Linked DNA regions of Homo sapiens. The protein of the gene in region 1 interacts with the protein of each later gene in a pairwise test. Each region holds a gene or a part of one and is shown in the gene's direction. Other genes may lie near its edges.

Region 1 (3,500 bases):
TCCACCTGGAATCTCCCTGCTTTTATCCCACCAACTTGACTTGGCTAACTGCTAAGTGCAAATTGTATGACTTTTTTGTGGGGTGGGGTTTAAATCTGACTCCCTCATTAGATTGAAAGCTCCATGGGGACAAGGACCATGTCTATCTTGCCACTGCTGAATTCCCAATATTTAGCATAGAACCTGGCACATAGTAGCCCATGAGTCAAAGTTTGCTGAACAAACATGTTAGTGAATGCAAATTATATTATATTGTAGGTGGAGCTCAATATATGTATTTATTGTATGAATATATGGGTTTATGGTGAACCAGAACTGTTTCTCTAAAGTCCAGAGGCATGCTGGGAAATATTGAACAACTGGATCTCTGCAAAATTAAAAGAAAAAAAAAAGCCCTGGTTTGTAGCATTTGCCTATTTCTGTGGTGCAAATACTTCCACCATGGCCAATTTCAAGACACCAACATGATGTTACCTGGCTCACAAAATTCTCAAAAGCTTAACTGGCTCTTGTGAGTTGATATGAGTCAGCTCCAGCACACCACTGAGTTAAGTTCCACCAAAGGAGACATACCCTAGACACCTGGAATGTGTGGGAGTTGAGGAAAGGTGGAGGTACCGTGTGCTCTGTTCTGAGCCCCAAACTGCACAAGGGGAAACTGTGAGTGTCTTTGAAGCACTGTTTCAAGAATTATAAGAATTCGGCCAGGCGTGGTGGCTCATGTCTGTAATCCCAGCACTTTGGGAGGCTGAGGCAGGCAGATCACCTGAGGTCAGGAGTTTGAGACCAGCCTGGCCAACATGGTGAAACCCCATCTCTACTAAAAATACAAAAATTAGCCCGGTGTGGTGCCACCTGCCTGTAGTCCCAGCTACTCAGGAGGCTGAGTTATGAGAATCGCTTGAACCTGGGAGGCAGAGGTTGCAGTGAGCTGAGATTGCACCACTGCACTCCAGTCTGGGCAACAGAGTGAGACTCTCTCAAAAAAAAAACAAAAAAAAAGAATGATAAGAATTCCGGTCATGGAAGTGAGGGAGATGAGGGTCATGTCCCAGGTAAAACCCCTACAAAACAGAGGCCTTCTGTGATCCTGGGATAGGTGTCTTAACCTCTCTGAGCCTCAATGTTCACATCCGTCAAAATGAGATGTGGACACCATCAAGGGATATGGTTAGACTTCCATGAGAGGGAATAAAAATGGATAAACAAAACGGACCTTGCCTAGGACCAGTCATAAAGGAATGACCAGACTTGTCAGAAAGGAATGACTTGACATCGAGTTTCCAGACATATGGTAAGTGCTCAGTAAGCATGAGCTCTCCCTTTGCCCCTCCTTCCAGCCTCCTTCTAGAGGTAGTAACATCAATGGAGTGCTGATCCTTTGCCAAGCTGGGTGTGCACATTCAGCTGACTTATCACATCCATGGGTCAATTGGATGGCTAACCACAATAGGCACTGGGCTGGCTTCCTCTTCAATCTTGACAGTGCAACAACCATGCTTGTTTCAGGATTTTGAGACAGAGCAGAACTCACATCCACAGTCTATTCACTCGTTCACCCTCAGTCCTAGGGCTAACCCGCAGTTTCACCACCAAGTAGGCATGTGGCCATGGGCCTTTCCTTATTTCCTTATACCTCTCTGAGCCTCAGTTCCCTCCTGTGCAAAATGAGGATAATTGTCATCTCTTTTTGTAAGGTTATTGTGAGGCTAAAACAGGACAGTGTATTTAAAGAGCCTAATGTGGTGTCTGGCCTCCGGAAGTGTGCTGTAAGTGGTAGCTGCTATTATTCCCATTATATCCTCCATGAAAAAGGACAAGCTGCCCCTTCATACCATGTACTCCTTGCAAATCACCCCCAGAAAGAGCTTTTTTTTTTTTCTCCGCATAATGTCTTTTTCTTCCAAAATGAATTTTGAGTTTGGTCCAAGCTCTTCTATTATATGAAGATGTTTCATTCCTTTAAGGACCTGCTGCAGAGGCCATAGAGGAGAAGCTAGCTGACAAGCAGCACGTTCGACAAGCAGCATGTTCTCTAAGTTCAGCCTCCTAGATAAATCCTGGTGGGGGTGTATGGGAAGAAACCTTGATTTTTCCTCTAAGAAAACCCTCACAGAGAGACCACTTCAGTGCCAAGTAATTTACTGTAATCACCTGGCAGATGGAGGACTGTTAGGGAAGTCCCATGATCTAACTTGCCTCCTGATGTGATTTGGCTGTGCCCCCACCCAAATGTCATCTTGAATTGTAGCTTCCTTAATTCCCATGTGTTGTGGGAGGGATCTGGTGGGAGGTAATTGAATCATTGGGGCAGGTCTTTCCCATACTGTTCTTGTGATAGTGAACAAGTCTCCTGAGATCTGATGGTTTTATAAAGGGGGTTCCCCTGCACAAACCCTCCTGCCTGCCGCCATGTAAGACGTGACTTTGCTCCTCATTCACCTTCAGCCAGGATTGTGAGGCCTCCCCAGCCATGTGGAACTGTGAGTCCATTAAACCTCTTTCCTTTATAAATTACCCAGTCTCAGGTGTGTCTTTTTCTTTTTCTTTTCTTTTCTTCTTCTTCTTCTTTTTTTTTTTTTTTTTTTTGAGACGGCGTTTCACTCTTGTAGCCCAGGCTGGAGTGCAATGGCGCGATCTCGGCTCACTGCAACCTCCGCCTCCTGGATTTAAGCAATTCTTCTGCCTCAGTCTCCCAAGTAGCTGGGATTACAGATGCCCACCATCACACCCGGCTAATTTTTGTATTTTTAGTAGAGATGGGGTTTCACCACGTTGGCCAGGCTGATCTCAAACTCCTGACCTCAGGTGATCTGCCTGCCTCGGCCTCCCAAAGTGCTGGGATTACAGGGTGGGCCATTACGCCCAGCCAGGTATGTCTTTATTAGCAGCATGAAAACAGACTAACACACCTCCTTAATTCTGCTTAGCTACCTTGGGAGAGTGGAGTTGAGCAGACATATCAGGTCCTTAAACAGGTACATCCCAATAACCTCCACTCTTTCAGCCACAGAGAGAAGTTTTCAATGAAACAGGTTCCTTGTCAGCAAAATCCACTTTGCTGAAGTGTTTCATCTTCCAGGTTAGCTCTGGGGAAGTCGTGGGTTTGTTTCTTGGGCTAGGGACTGGAATTATTTTTGGTGGAAAGGAGGTCTTCAAATTCAGCACAGTGTAGATTAAAGAGCTATGGTCTAGAATGATCCAGTCTAGCTGTATCAGCCAGGAACTTTTTGGTGGCAAGTGACAGAAACTCAAATCTTACTGGCTTCAATAAAAAAAGAAATCACTGGTTCATGTAACTGAAAAGCTCATGTCTGCTGGAATCCACTGTTAAACTCAATTTCTTTCCTCTTCTTTTTGGGCTTTGCTTTCTTCTGTTTGGGTTCTGCTTTCAGCTAAATCCTCTCCCACCTTAGCAACCCTAAAAAGGGAGACGTTCTGTTTCTCATGAATTCCACCAAACTTGCAGCTAGGTTTTCCACTGGACCACATTGGGTGAC
Region 2 (3,500 bases), on another chromosome or scaffold:
TGGAGTGAGAGAGGGCAGTGGAACAATTGCAGGATGCGCCTGGCCATCTCCTCCCTTGGTTGGGGCATCCACACATCCATTCTGTCTAGGGTGTGAATAACCTCAAGCCCTTTCCTTTTGATGTCCCTCTGAGCCTGCACTGCTTTGTGACAGTCTTAGGCATGACAAAGCTCTCCTTCTGTAGCTGACATAAATCAGAATAGCCTCCCCCATGTGTATCCTTCACACTTCCTTTATTTCCTAGGCTTTATGATCAATGGGCTCCCTTCTCTGCTGTGATTATGGCTGAAAGCTTTTGTTTATCCATGCACATTCTTAATCGATATTAGTTCCCAATCCTCCCACCCTGTGATTTATGCATTTGCCTGTCTTCTGTATTGAGTCCTGAAGGATTGGAATTTGTGTAAATGTCATGTACAAGGAGAAGGCACATTTGGTGCTATCTCAAGTTGCATTACTTTTAAAGCCCCCAGAACCATCACATTGAGCTGTGGAAAATATGACTCTCTGCCCAGACCAATGGCAGGCTTCCTGCCATGAGGCACACAGAGCCCAAAGGCTCAGGTGTAGTAATACTAGTCTGAAATGCTCAGTCACAGGGTGACCAGACCATTAAACTGTAATTAGGTTGTTATAATTATTGAAAACCAAACAGCATTATAATAATAGAATTGTGCCTCTCACATTTTATATCTCGCCCAGGATCATATTAGTAGCCTATTCAGTATATGGGCATTGAGTAATAGCTGCTATTCTTCAGAAGGCATTTACTTCTATTAAAAGTGCTGGGTGAGCAATTTGATGAAAGCATGGACATTTTCCTAGTGGAAAATGGACATTTATATGACATTGTTCAGAGACCTGGAAATTATAAAGGCCTACTTCTTTGAAAATCAAAGTCCTATTTTTAACCTCTAAAACACAAACAAAATAAAATACGAACAGTTATCATAAAATGTTCTTGTTCCTTTTTTGAAATAGAATGTATTAGAGAAATGAATATGTAAATACCCAAGAAGAAACCAAATTCTGTTTCCATGTAGGTATGTATAACTGGATGAATAGGCACTTAGGCAAATCAGAACTAGGTTACAGGGGTGTTTTCAGGAATTTATGATTAGATTGTGATGGTTTTTAGTGCAGCTCTTCCTCATGTTAGCAGATAGCCCACACGTGTGGGAAAGCTGAGTCGTCTTATTGAATCTGACAGTAACCGTTTTTGTCCCTTTCTTTTTCTTTTCAGAACTCTCTTTGCTCACAAGTTACCAAAAAAAAAAGAGCCAACATGTTGGTATTGCTGGCTGGTATCTTTGTGGTCCACATCGCTACTGTTATTATGCTATTTGTTAGCACCATTGCCAATGTGAGTAATGTTCTTTTGTTCATTCATTCATTGAGAAATCATTCGAATATTTACATCAAGTGCACAAAAGAAGTTTAAGCCACAGCCCTTGCCCTTCATGAACTTACAGCTCAGTTGTGGGAAAACAAAATAAACACACGCTTGCCCTTCAAACAATTAAATAACAGGAGGATAAAAGTGAATGTCCACAGGAGTAATCCTGCCAGAGCTGTAGGTGGTTAAGGGCTGGAGGATCTAGTGCAGCTTCTTCGGTCTCTAGAAGAGCCTTCCCAGCAGCAGGGGTGAGTGGAGCTTGAGGTGAACCTGGAGGAGTGGTAGATGGCTGAGGTTTCTCTTAGTGAAAGAGGGAAGGTGGAAGGATCATAGGGATGCATTCAGGTGGGAGTGCTAGCAAAGGAGCATATGTAGGAAGGACAAGCTTTGGTCAGAGGATAAGGAGGACACACACCTATGTGGCTGGAGCCGAACTTCCCCTCCTTCTGAGAAGCTTGATTAGAAGGATAGATGGGAAGAAGAGGATGCCAGACTGACAAATTCAAATTTTGAGCAAAGAGTAGCATGTGAAAGTGGAGTTTTGCAAGATTAACCCAGTGCCACTGAATTAACTAACTCAGACAAAACGAGAAAAAAAAAATGGAGGTAGTGTCTTTTCTCTCTGAACCCTGGGCTACTCTGACCTCTAGTGGTGGCTTACAGCGCCCAATTTGCTTTTACTTGTGCTTTTCTCAGAAAAAAGCCAGCTCCTTGGACCTAAAAACCAAGGCCACCAATCACTAGGCAGGCAAACCATGGTTTCAGAATCTGTTTAGGTCCCTATCACAGTTAAAGTATAAGTGAGTTTTAAAGTTCAGATAGAAGAGCTTTGCAAACATTAGTGGGTGTGATCATAAGCAAGGCTAATTAAGAATAACTGTGATAAGACAACCCCCGCCCACGTGACCTCCTTGTTTTGTAATTTAGCCATTCTATATGTCAACTCCTATATCTATCCAGATAAATCTGATAAGCTTCTTCAAAGTGTATTAATGAGCGCCAAAGCGCTGCGTATCTGTGAATTACCAGCCCCTAATATAAGGCTAGGCACACAGTTGTTTATTGAATGAAGAGCAGGGATTGGCGTAGGTGATGCATGTTCCCGGCCCCACCTTTCCAGTGTGTGCATTTGTGTGTGTGTAGACAGGACACTGCACTTGTTTTCTCTTCCAGAAGGATAATTCCTTTTCTTGGGCCAGGCAGGAAGGGATGGCGGCACCATGATCAGTCTGGGGGAATCCATTCAGGTCACCCTTCAGCTTTTAGTAGCCCCTACAGGAAAGCACTTGCTGTAGTATTTTACTATCAAATTACTTTGCATGTTGTGACAGTCAAGTTTGATCCTTCTGTTTAGATGAAAGTGGCTTATTAACCACTAGATTCATTGTTATTTTCCCAGTAGGTCTTATGTTTCTTAATTGTTTCCAGTTGGACATTTCACTTTTTTCCTGGTTAACCAGGGACTTAAATGAAACAATCTTGTTAGAGTATATGAACTGCACATACCTAAGCCAGTTTCCTCATCCTGGACTTCTGTTTCTCAGAACCTTAGAATTTTAAACCACTGTGGTTGAGTTACTTCCATTTTTGTTAAGTCGTGAAGAATGTGGAGCCCAAAGAGGGCTAGGTGATTTCTTTCTGGGTTTCACATTCTTCTGTGTCTCTTCTCTTGGCAACTTTGTGAACTTCAGTTTTAATCGGACCTTATTTCCGCCCACAGATAAGCTGCATAGCCATAGTTATAGCTAAATAGAATGTCTTTATTAAAATCTGATCCCGATGCAAGCTGATTTGTTATTTTATTTTTAAATCAGAGGGCCAGCTTTCAATTAACATTTTCTTTCCTTCTGGTTTCAGGTCTGGTTGGTTTCCAATACGGTAGATGCATCAGTAGGTCTTTGGAAAAACTGTACCAACATTAGCTGCAGTGACAGCCTGTCATATGCCAGTGAAGGTATATATAAAGATATTGACCCAGTGCTGACAATAGGTGTGGTCAGGGAATGTTCAGCCCCTGGAGTGACCTCATGCCCTTGTTCTCCTCGTCCTGTGTCTACAGATGCCCTCAAGACAGTGCAGGCCTTCATGATTCTCTCTATCATCT

Evidence for each region. The genes of interacting proteins can lie anywhere in the genome.
Region 2: the proteins of TMEM114 (region 1) and EMP1 interact in binary tests that used the Homo sapiens proteins (3 or more experiments, as listed by UniProt).

What each region holds. Positions count from the first base shown.
Region 1 is NC_000016.10:8,584,012-8,587,511, reverse strand, and holds part of TMEM114 (transmembrane protein 114), read left to right. Parts: intron 1-3,500.
Region 2 is NC_000012.12:13,210,226-13,213,725, forward strand, and holds part of EMP1 (epithelial membrane protein 1), read left to right. Parts: intron 1-1,243; 5' UTR 1,244-1,285; coding exon 1,286-1,363; intron 1,364-3,253; coding exon 3,254-3,350; intron 3,351-3,455; coding exon 3,456-3,500.